Linked DNA regions of Homo sapiens. The protein of the gene in region 1 purifies or fractionates together with the protein of each later gene. This does not show direct contact. Each region holds a gene or a part of one and is shown on either strand. Other genes may lie near its edges.

The links.
Region 2: the proteins of METAP1 (region 1) and PAGE1 purify together in Homo sapiens (co-immunoprecipitation; one large-scale study listed by IntAct). This does not show direct contact.

What each region holds. Positions count from the first base shown.
Region 1 is NC_000004.12:99,039,769-99,044,734, forward strand, and holds part of METAP1 (methionine aminopeptidase 1), read left to right. Parts: intron 1-1,274; coding exon 1,275-1,358; intron 1,359-3,480; coding exon 3,481-3,619; intron 3,620-4,966. UniProt on the Homo sapiens protein: Cotranslationally removes the N-terminal methionine from nascent proteins. The N-terminal methionine is often cleaved when the second residue in the primary sequence is small and uncharged (Met-Ala-, Cys, Gly, Pro, Ser, Thr, or Val).
Region 2 is NC_000023.11:49,685,893-49,690,377, forward strand, and holds the end of PAGE1 (P antigen family member 1), read right to left. Parts: intron 3,652-4,485; coding exon 3,526-3,651; intron 1,672-3,525; coding exon 1,649-1,671; 3' UTR 1,555-1,648; downstream 1-1,554.

The DNA of each region.
Region 1 (4,966 bases):
TTTTTAGTAGAGATGGGGTTTCACCATGTTGCCCAGGCTGGTCTCGAACTCCTGACCTCGTGATCTGCCCACCTTGGCCTCCCAAAATGCTGGGATTACAGGCGTGAGCCACCACACCTGGCCTTTTTTTGTATTTTTAGTAGATACAGGGTTTCACCATGTTGGCCAGGCTGGTCTCTAACTCCTGACGTAAGGTGATCTGCCCGCCTCGGCCTCCCACAGTGCTGGGATTACAGGCGTGAGCCATTGTGCCCGGTTTAGCCATGCTTTTCATTAAACTATTGTTAGTATATAATTTTAGTCAACAGTTTTCTTCTTAAAAGCCTATTTCAGAATTAATCTGGTGGATAGTCTATATTTAGATGACAATCCTTTTCATTTATTTAATGATATTTAAAAACATTTTGTCATTTTATTTTCACAAGTCATCATAACATAGGACAGAGTTTAAGGCTCAGAGGGTTATGCTGTAGGCCTTTTTGTGAAATACCTATGATGAGTGGTAGTAGTGGTTGGTACTCATTAGGTGAAATCACATATTTATTCTGAAGGAAAATATAATACATTGATATTATTCATTTAAGTAAGATTCTTAAGGTTTCTATTCAGTGCTTTAAAAGTGATTTGATTCTAATTTTGTTTGATATCCTGGAGAACTTTCTCTTCCTATGACTTGCTGTGATTCTTTGAGGAATTCATTCATCTATTTTTTTTTTTTTGAGACAGGGTCTTGCTATCACTCAGGCTAGAGTACAGTGGCACAATCATAGATCATATAGATCATAGCTCATAGCTTACTGTAACTCCAAACTCCTGGGCTCAAGCTATCCTTCCACCTCAGCCTCCTGAGTAGCTGGGATCACAGGCATGTGCCACTACACCTGACTACTTTTTTTTTTTTTTTTTTTAAGAGACAGGATCTCACTATGTTGCCCAGGCTCATCTGTTCTTTTTTCTTTTCCTCTACTTTTCCCCATTATAGAAATGAGAGAAGACTACCTCTATCAGTTGATGATAGTTTAGATTTCTTAGGATGTATATTTTCACATAGAAATCAGCCAACCTTACTGCTGCTTGCTTGTTAACCCAATTTTTATATAAAATTAATGTTTGTTTTTATGTATTTACATATAATATATTTATATATTTTCTATAAAATTATAATATTCAAGGGGAGATTCATTTTTACCAATCTTCCACAGTCAAACAGTAGAAAGGGTATAGATTTCTGTTTCTGTGTCTTTTTTAATGTATTGAGTGTTCCTTTTTTACAGCTTGCTAGAGAAGTTTTGGATGTTGCTGCCGGCATGATTAAACCAGGTGTAACTACTGAAGAAATAGATCACGCTGTACACTTAGTAAGAACTTCACTTTTTTACTTTGAGTAATTTTGTTACATTACTAGATGCTTTGAACTTAAACATTAAGTAGATTTAAGTTCTGAGTGTCTAAGGTAACTTGGGTAAACTCATTTGAAAGCAAATTTTTGCTTTGTTTCAAATATGGAAAACATTCAACAGTCATTATTCTCATCTTTAAGAATCTATAATATTAAGGTCTGAGGTAAGCTTGAAATATCTTGTTTCTGAAACAACATATTTGTAATAAGCATTTCAGTTGAGCTTTTATAAAATGATTGATTTTATCTGCTTTAAGTAAATCCTGCCACTACAGACATCAAATATTCTGAAATAAAAAAAAGAATATGACTTCTGATGGTAGATTAGTTAAATGTTTCCTCAAGGCAATGAACAGTCCACATAAATATTTGTAGTAAGTATAGGGATTAAAAATAAATAAATAAAGATTGTCTGCCCATCAAAGAGAGACCTTAAGACCTTATTAGATGAGTGTACACATTATATGAATTTTAAAAAAAAGAGTGATAAGTAGTTAATATAACATATGGAAAGCAGATCACACGTGTTCTAGTAAACAAATACAAATTATAAAGACCTAGTAAATTTGTATTTTAAAGATGTTTATATGCATTGCTTGTGTGGAAATGATGAAACTGGTCCTCTCTTCTGCTTGGTGATGGTATTGTAAATTGGAAGAACCCTTTTGGAAGGATTTGACAATCTATCTTGAGCTATGAAAATGTTTATAAATTTTTTATTCAGAATCTTATTAATCCTGACTTTTGGGTATTGTTTCATATGTTAGTATAAGACGTATCGTATGCAATAATAGCATTTTGAGTATGCTCTGTGGGCCAGGTACTCAAGTGCTTCTTTTACATTAACTCATTAATCTTACCAACAACCTCTTGAGGGTAGGTACTATTGTAATCTCCGTTTTATAGGTAAGGAAACTGAGGAAGAGAGAGGTTAATTAATTAAATTGGTAAAAGTTACACAACTTGTAAGTGATGGAATTGGCATTTTCAATCTAGAAAGTCTAATTCTGTATGCTCTGAACTATTATTTGTAATGCTATGAGAAGTAGAGAAGTATATTCCTAAATGAGGGAAAAGCCACAAATGTAGTTATTGGTTGTAAGATTTTTTTTTTTTTTGTAATTGAGGAAACTTCATATTAATTTAGATTTTCAGTAAGAATGGAATTGCTAGTAAAATCATGGTATATTCTGCATATTCTGCAAATGGTATATTGTGCAACCATTAAAAAATATTAGCCTGAAGACTAGAGCAGGTTGGAAACAGAAATTACGTATACTGTGATTACCACTGTGTAAAAGCATCCAGTAAAGTAAGACTTGTTATGGAGAGCAGACCATGTTTTTCTGTTAGGAGTTCTTTTGTTGTTCCACTGAATGTGGTTATTAAAATATCTGGAAGTACTTTACCGTTTCTTAATTATACTAGTAGTCATTTTTGGGGCATAGTGATATAGGCTTGTTTCAACATAAGAATTATAATTACATCAAAAATGCTTGTTAATATTTACTTCAAATATTTTATTTTTACTTTAACATTTTTCATAAGGACTAGTTAATTCTAAAGTAAAATCTTCATATGTGGTAATATTTATATATATATTTGTTATAGAGGTTGAGTATCCCTTATCTGAAATGCTTTGGACCAGAAGTGTTCTGAATTTTGAATTTTTTTGGATTTTGGAATATTTGTATTATACGTAACTGGTTAAGTGTCTGTAATTTCAAATTTGAAATTCTAAATGCTCCAATGGGCATTTCTTTGAGTGTCCTGTCGGTGTTCAGAAAGTTTCAGATTTTGGAGGATTTCAGATTTTTGGATTAGGAATACTTAACCTGTATGTCATTTTACTTTTCCTTTGTGCAGTTACCAGTAAACTGGTTTGTGTATGTGTACCTGACTGGCACAAACCCTGTTGTATATTGTTTAAGATAATATCCAGTACTGTTACTAAAATAAAATACTGAGTTCTTCATAGTAGCATGTGTCCAACTGTTTTCACATTTTTCAAATTTTAAAATCTGTAATTTCATACAGATTTTTTCTTTTATATATTCCAAATTATTTTTTCTGTATTATAGGCATGTATTGCAAGAAATTGCTACCCTTCTCCCCTGAATTATTATAATTTCCCAAAGTCTTGTTGTACCTCAGTGAATGAAGTCATTTGCCATGGAATACCAGACAGAAGGCCCTTACAAGAAGGTGACATTGTTAATGGTAAGAAAAATATGTTACTTTCATCACCATGGGCAAAGAAACAACAAAGCTTGGGGAATCTGACAGTGACTTGTGTTTTCTTGACTTGCTTCCTGTACTTAAACTTTTTCCTTTTTAAAATTCAGTATCACTAACTCTTAAATCTACAGGAAGCTCTCTTAACGGTTTTGTGCATGTTGCTTTTAAGATACTTCCGGTGTGATGTGTTTGGTGCAGTGTATTTCTTTAATGCTTATCTCATATGTGATTGGTAAATAGGTCAAAGATGTCAGTGAAATGTGGAGTCTAGTTTTTTTCCCCCAGAAGTTCACTAATGGTTTTGAAGAGACCAGGGCAGGCTTTGTTATAGATACAGGAAAACCCTTCATAATATATGAAGACCTAAAGGAAAGCTGAAAATCTTGCAGAAGTGCCTTACTTGAGTGGAAGTAGCTTTAAAGACCCCTATGTTAAGCTACCTTGGGAAGTTACAAGTATAGAGAGTAGAGGAAGTAGTTTAAAAGACATTAATGAAGGCTTTCCTAGATGGCATTTGTTTTTGTTTTGTGTATTATTTTATTTTTTGGAGACAGGGTCTCACTGTCACCCAGGCTCGAGTGCAGGGGCGCCACCATGGCTCACTGCAGTCTTGACTTCCCTGGCTCAGGTGATCCTCCCACCTCAGAAGTAGATGAGACTGCAGGCTCATTGCTACCATGCCCAGCTCAGTTTTTGTATTTTTTGTAGAGATGGGGTTTTGCCATGTTGCCCAGGCTGGTCTCAAACTCCTGGACTCAAGCATCTGCCCACCTTGGCCTCCCAAAGTCTTGGGATTACAGGCATGAGCCACCGTGCCTGGCTTAGATGGCATTTTAATATTGATGGAATTAGACTCTTTGTTAATAAGATATCTTAAAGGAACTACCTATCAAATGAGGAAGCATGAGCCCAAGTGTTAGAGGCTGCAGATAATTGACTGATTGTGATGCTAGCTGTGAATGATAGCCGAAATTTAACTATGACACTATTTTTATTAGAATTGCTACTGCTTTAGTTAGGGTATCTGTTCATAAAGTTCCATAGGTTTTGAGGCCAACCCTGTTTTTCAAATATAAAGCCTGTTATTTTTATTATATGTAGAATGTGTGAGGTTTTTCAGGAATGTATGTGTTGTGCTAGAACCAAAATATCTATATTGTGATGTTACAGGTTGATTGAAATATGTGGTTTAAAAATACTCAATGTGCTCTCTAGATACATTATAATGGTATAATAGTATATAATATATAGTATAATAGTAATCTATATTCTTAAACATGGGGACAAAGAGAAGAATGAATATTCACAAATAAGAGAAAAGCAAATGAG
Region 2 (4,485 bases), on another chromosome or scaffold:
AGACCCTGTGTCTAAAACAAAACAAAAAGAAATTGTTCAGTATGAACAAGTCAGAGAAAGAAACTGAAAGAAAAAGGAATACAACCTCGTGGACCTGTAAGAAAATACTAAAACATCTATCATTTGTAGCATCAGAATCACAGAAGAAGTGAAAATATTAGGGAAACAGGAGTCTAGGACAGCCAGAGTGAAACCACTTGAAAATCAACTCCATCTTGAAATTAACAAGGCACATTCCTTGCCAGTCACAACCCATGGTCCTAGGATGTTTGCAGTTGAGAAAACAGAATAAAGATACCTACAAGGACATACTCCCACAGCAGCGGAAAGTGCAGGGATCCCAACACCCATAACAATATATGCGTTCAAAATAATTATAGTTATGCTTTGATGTACTTACACATTAGAAAGTCAAGGATAGTTTTCTTTAAATCAATAGAACGATAAATTTCATCATGCTGTTAGCCCACCCACACAAACGTACAGGTAAGTTGAGTCTTTACACAGACAAGACCCCTATGTAAGAAAAATGTGGCCAGGCCAAGGCTCACACCTGTAATCCTAGCACTTTGGGAGGCTGAGGTGAGCAGATCACCTGAGCTCAGAAGTTCCAGAGCAGCCTGGGCAACATGACAAAATCTTATCTGTACGAAACAATAGAAAAACTAGCTGGACATGGTGGCATGTGCCTATAGTCCTATTCAGGAGGCTGAGGTGGGAGGATCCCTTGTGCCCAGGAGGTCAAGGCTGAAGTGAGCTGTGATAACACCACAGCACTCCAGCCTGGGTGACAGAGTGACACTCTGTCTCAATTTTTAAAAATATAAAACAAAAAAGTACAAATTTATCAATCTAATTCACTACTTTAACAGATTAATGAAAAAATGCGGTGATAATCACAATAGATGCAGTGTTTGATGAAACTCAACATATATCCAAAATGAATACTCTCAGCAAACTGGAGCAGAGTGGAATGACTGACTGTTGAAGTCAATCTACAAAAAAAGTACGGTAAATATTATGTTGAAATGTTGAAATTTTTCCATTTCTGATCAGGGATAAGACAGGGATGTCCACTATCGCCATTATACCAGTGGGTCTGCCCAATGCCCCTAAAATCAGAAAAGGAAATAAAAGTGTTTAAAATGGCAGCAACAGGCCGGGCGCAGTGGCTCATGCCTGCAATCCCAGCACTTTGGGAGGCCGAGGTGGGTGGATCACTTGAGCTCAGGAGTTCAAGAACAAATTGGGCAACATGGCAAAACCACGTGTCTACAAAAAATACAAAAGAAAACAGAAAAAAAAGTGGCAGAAACAAAATTGTTCTTATTCAAAGACGATATGATTCTGTATGTTGAAAACTGAAAAGGATCTAGAAGTAAACTTTTAGAATTAATAAGCATATTTAACAAGGTTGCTGGATAGAAACTCAATATGTAGGAATTATGCCTCTACATACCAGCTCAAACAGCTAGCATATAAAATGTCAAAGAATGATACACATTTCAGAGCATCAAACACCTGGAAGTAAAATTAACAAAAGATGCACAAGACTTCTTTGCAGAAGGCTGTAAAGCTTTATTGGGAGAATTTTAATGGTCAAATTTCCAACACAGGAGCAGCCTGAACCATTTCAGCGTGTCTTCTTTTAAGGCTGTGATTGCCCTTCATCTGTAACAGAAACATAACTGTTAGGAAGATGATTTAGCAGCAGATTATTTAGATGACCCAAAAGGCACACAAAGGACACTACAATTTGGGTTTTATAAAATGGACTAAAAATAGAACTCTAAGGGCGATCCTGTGTCTTATAGCCAAGTAAACCTCTGTATAAATTTTGAGGGTAGACCTGTAGAATTTAAAGGTAATTAATTCCGTAAACATCAGGTGCTTCCTTTAAATCCAGAAGCACTTATAATTAACAGTCAGCAACTTGGAAAACACATGTGTAAAACATACTTCGGTGGATTACTCAGAAAGTACTGGAGTCATGGTCTTTGAACTTCAAATCTTACCAACTGATGCCTCAAAATCTGAAACCTACATGCAACATTTGATATGGTTAGAGATCATGTATGTGTCTACAGTCTTATTAGAAATAGTGGCTCATGAAGACTGACAGTGGGGCAGGGAGTGTGCGTAGCACAGGCATCTTACTCACACCCATGCTGAGCATCACTGACCTACATCCCACAGAAAATAGAAACTAAATGGTCTCTCACCATTTGATTATTCACTCACTCAAGGTTTCCTTGGAGAAAGATTTAAAAAGCACTTATTCATTAAGGGCCAGAGAATCCCAGCCTGGGCAACACAGTGAGACCTCATCTGTATAAAAAAAATTTTTTAACAAAACAACATCAGTCAGGCATGGCAGCTTGTGCCTGTAGTTCCAGCTGCTCAGGAGGCTAAGTTGGGAGGATCACTTGAGCCTGGGAGGCTGAGGTTGCAGTGAGCTGAAATCGCACCACAGCACCCCAGTCTGGGTGACAGAGTGAGACTTGTCACTCTGTCAGAGCGACAATTCAAAAATTGACAGTACCTAAGAATAGGCATTCAGGTCTCCACACAGAAAAACTAACATGAAGCAGAGTGCCCGCTCCCTTTCTTAGTAGCAATGAAATCTCAATTCAGAGGTTTTCAGATGACTCAGGCCAGGGTTTCATGATTTATGATAAATAAATCATGTAAAACAGATGATCTCTGTATCCTATGCATTCTATGCAACAGGATCAGAGTATGAAAGAACCAGAATGGAAAAGGATTTTAAAATATCTGACTTAAACTCACTATTTTTATAAGACCAAAGATAGGTTTAGAAGGTAAGGGATTTGCTCAGAATCTCACCAATGCTGTAAGAGCTGGTATTAGAACCTGCATCCGTGCTTCAGCATATTTCACACCAACTGATGGGTGTTACAAATGTGTTATGTATTTATTAAAAGCAGACCTTTACAAAAGCATCTGAAAATCATGAGCTATTGGTTTAAGGATTTATACTCAAAAGTTATAATTCAATATGGCTTTGTCTCAGTTTGTTTCTGTATCTGACAGTCTATAAGTTGGCTGCTGGGACCTGAACTACATTTCAAATAACCTTTATATAAGAATTCTATTATTAAGGAGGCAGTATTGTTACCCCTGTGTTATTAAAAACATAATACTGGGTCAGGTGCAGTGGCTCATGCCTGTAATCCTGGCACTTTAGTAGGCTGAGGTGGGTGGATCACCTGAGATCAGGAGTTTGAGACCAGCTTATGCAAAATGGCAAAACCTCGTCTCTACTAAAAATACAAAAATTAGCTGGGCGTGGTGGAGCACGCCTGTAATCCCAGCTACTTGGGAGGCTGAGGGAGGAGAATCACTTGAACTTGGGAGGCAGAAGCTCCAGTGAGCCGAGATGGCACCACTGCACTCCAGCCTGGTTGACAGAGCGAGACTCTGTCTCAAAAAAATAATAATTATTATAATATGATACTGTGGAAACAGACACCCTACAATTTGCATGCCTAATGGATTGCCTACCTTCCTCAGGTGTTTTCACCTCCTCTGGATTTGGCAGGCCCAACTCCTGGACATCAGGACCATCTCCGCGCTCACACCCAGTCTTCGGGTGAACCTGTTCCTGGCTATCCGCTTCAGGCTCTGGCCCTTAAAAAAAAAAAAAAAAAAAAAAAAAAAAAATATATATATATATATATATATATATATATATATATACATATACATATATATATACATATACATATATATGTGTGTGTATATATATATATACATATACATATATGTGTGTATATATATACACATATATATGTGTATATATGTATATATGTATATATACACACATATATGTATATGTGTATATATACATATATATGTGTGTATATATACACACATATATATGTATATATATGTGTATATACACACATATATGTGTATATATGTGTGTATATACACACATATATAGGTGTGTATATATGTGTATATACACACATATATAGGTGTATATATATGTGTATATACACACATATATAGGGTGTATATATATGTGTGTATATACACACATATATATGTGTATATATATGTGTGTATATACACACATATATATGTGTATATATATGTGTGTATATACACACATATATATGTGTATATATGTGTATATATGTGTATATACACACATATATATGTGTATATATGTGTATATATGTGTATATATACACATATATATGTGTATATATACACATATATATGTGTATATATATAATCAATTTAAGCAGTAAAACATGAAATATGAACAAGAAAATAATATTCATGCTCTCAGTGTTATTAAATAAAAGCTTTCACTAGTGTAATAATAAATGTGTTGATAAGAATCCCAAGAACATGATTTCAGGAGTCTGTTGGCAGAAAACAGGAAAACAGGGTTTTCCAAATATTACCCTCTTCCTTTCCGAAGACTGCCCTCAGACAACTTTGTTGCTGCCT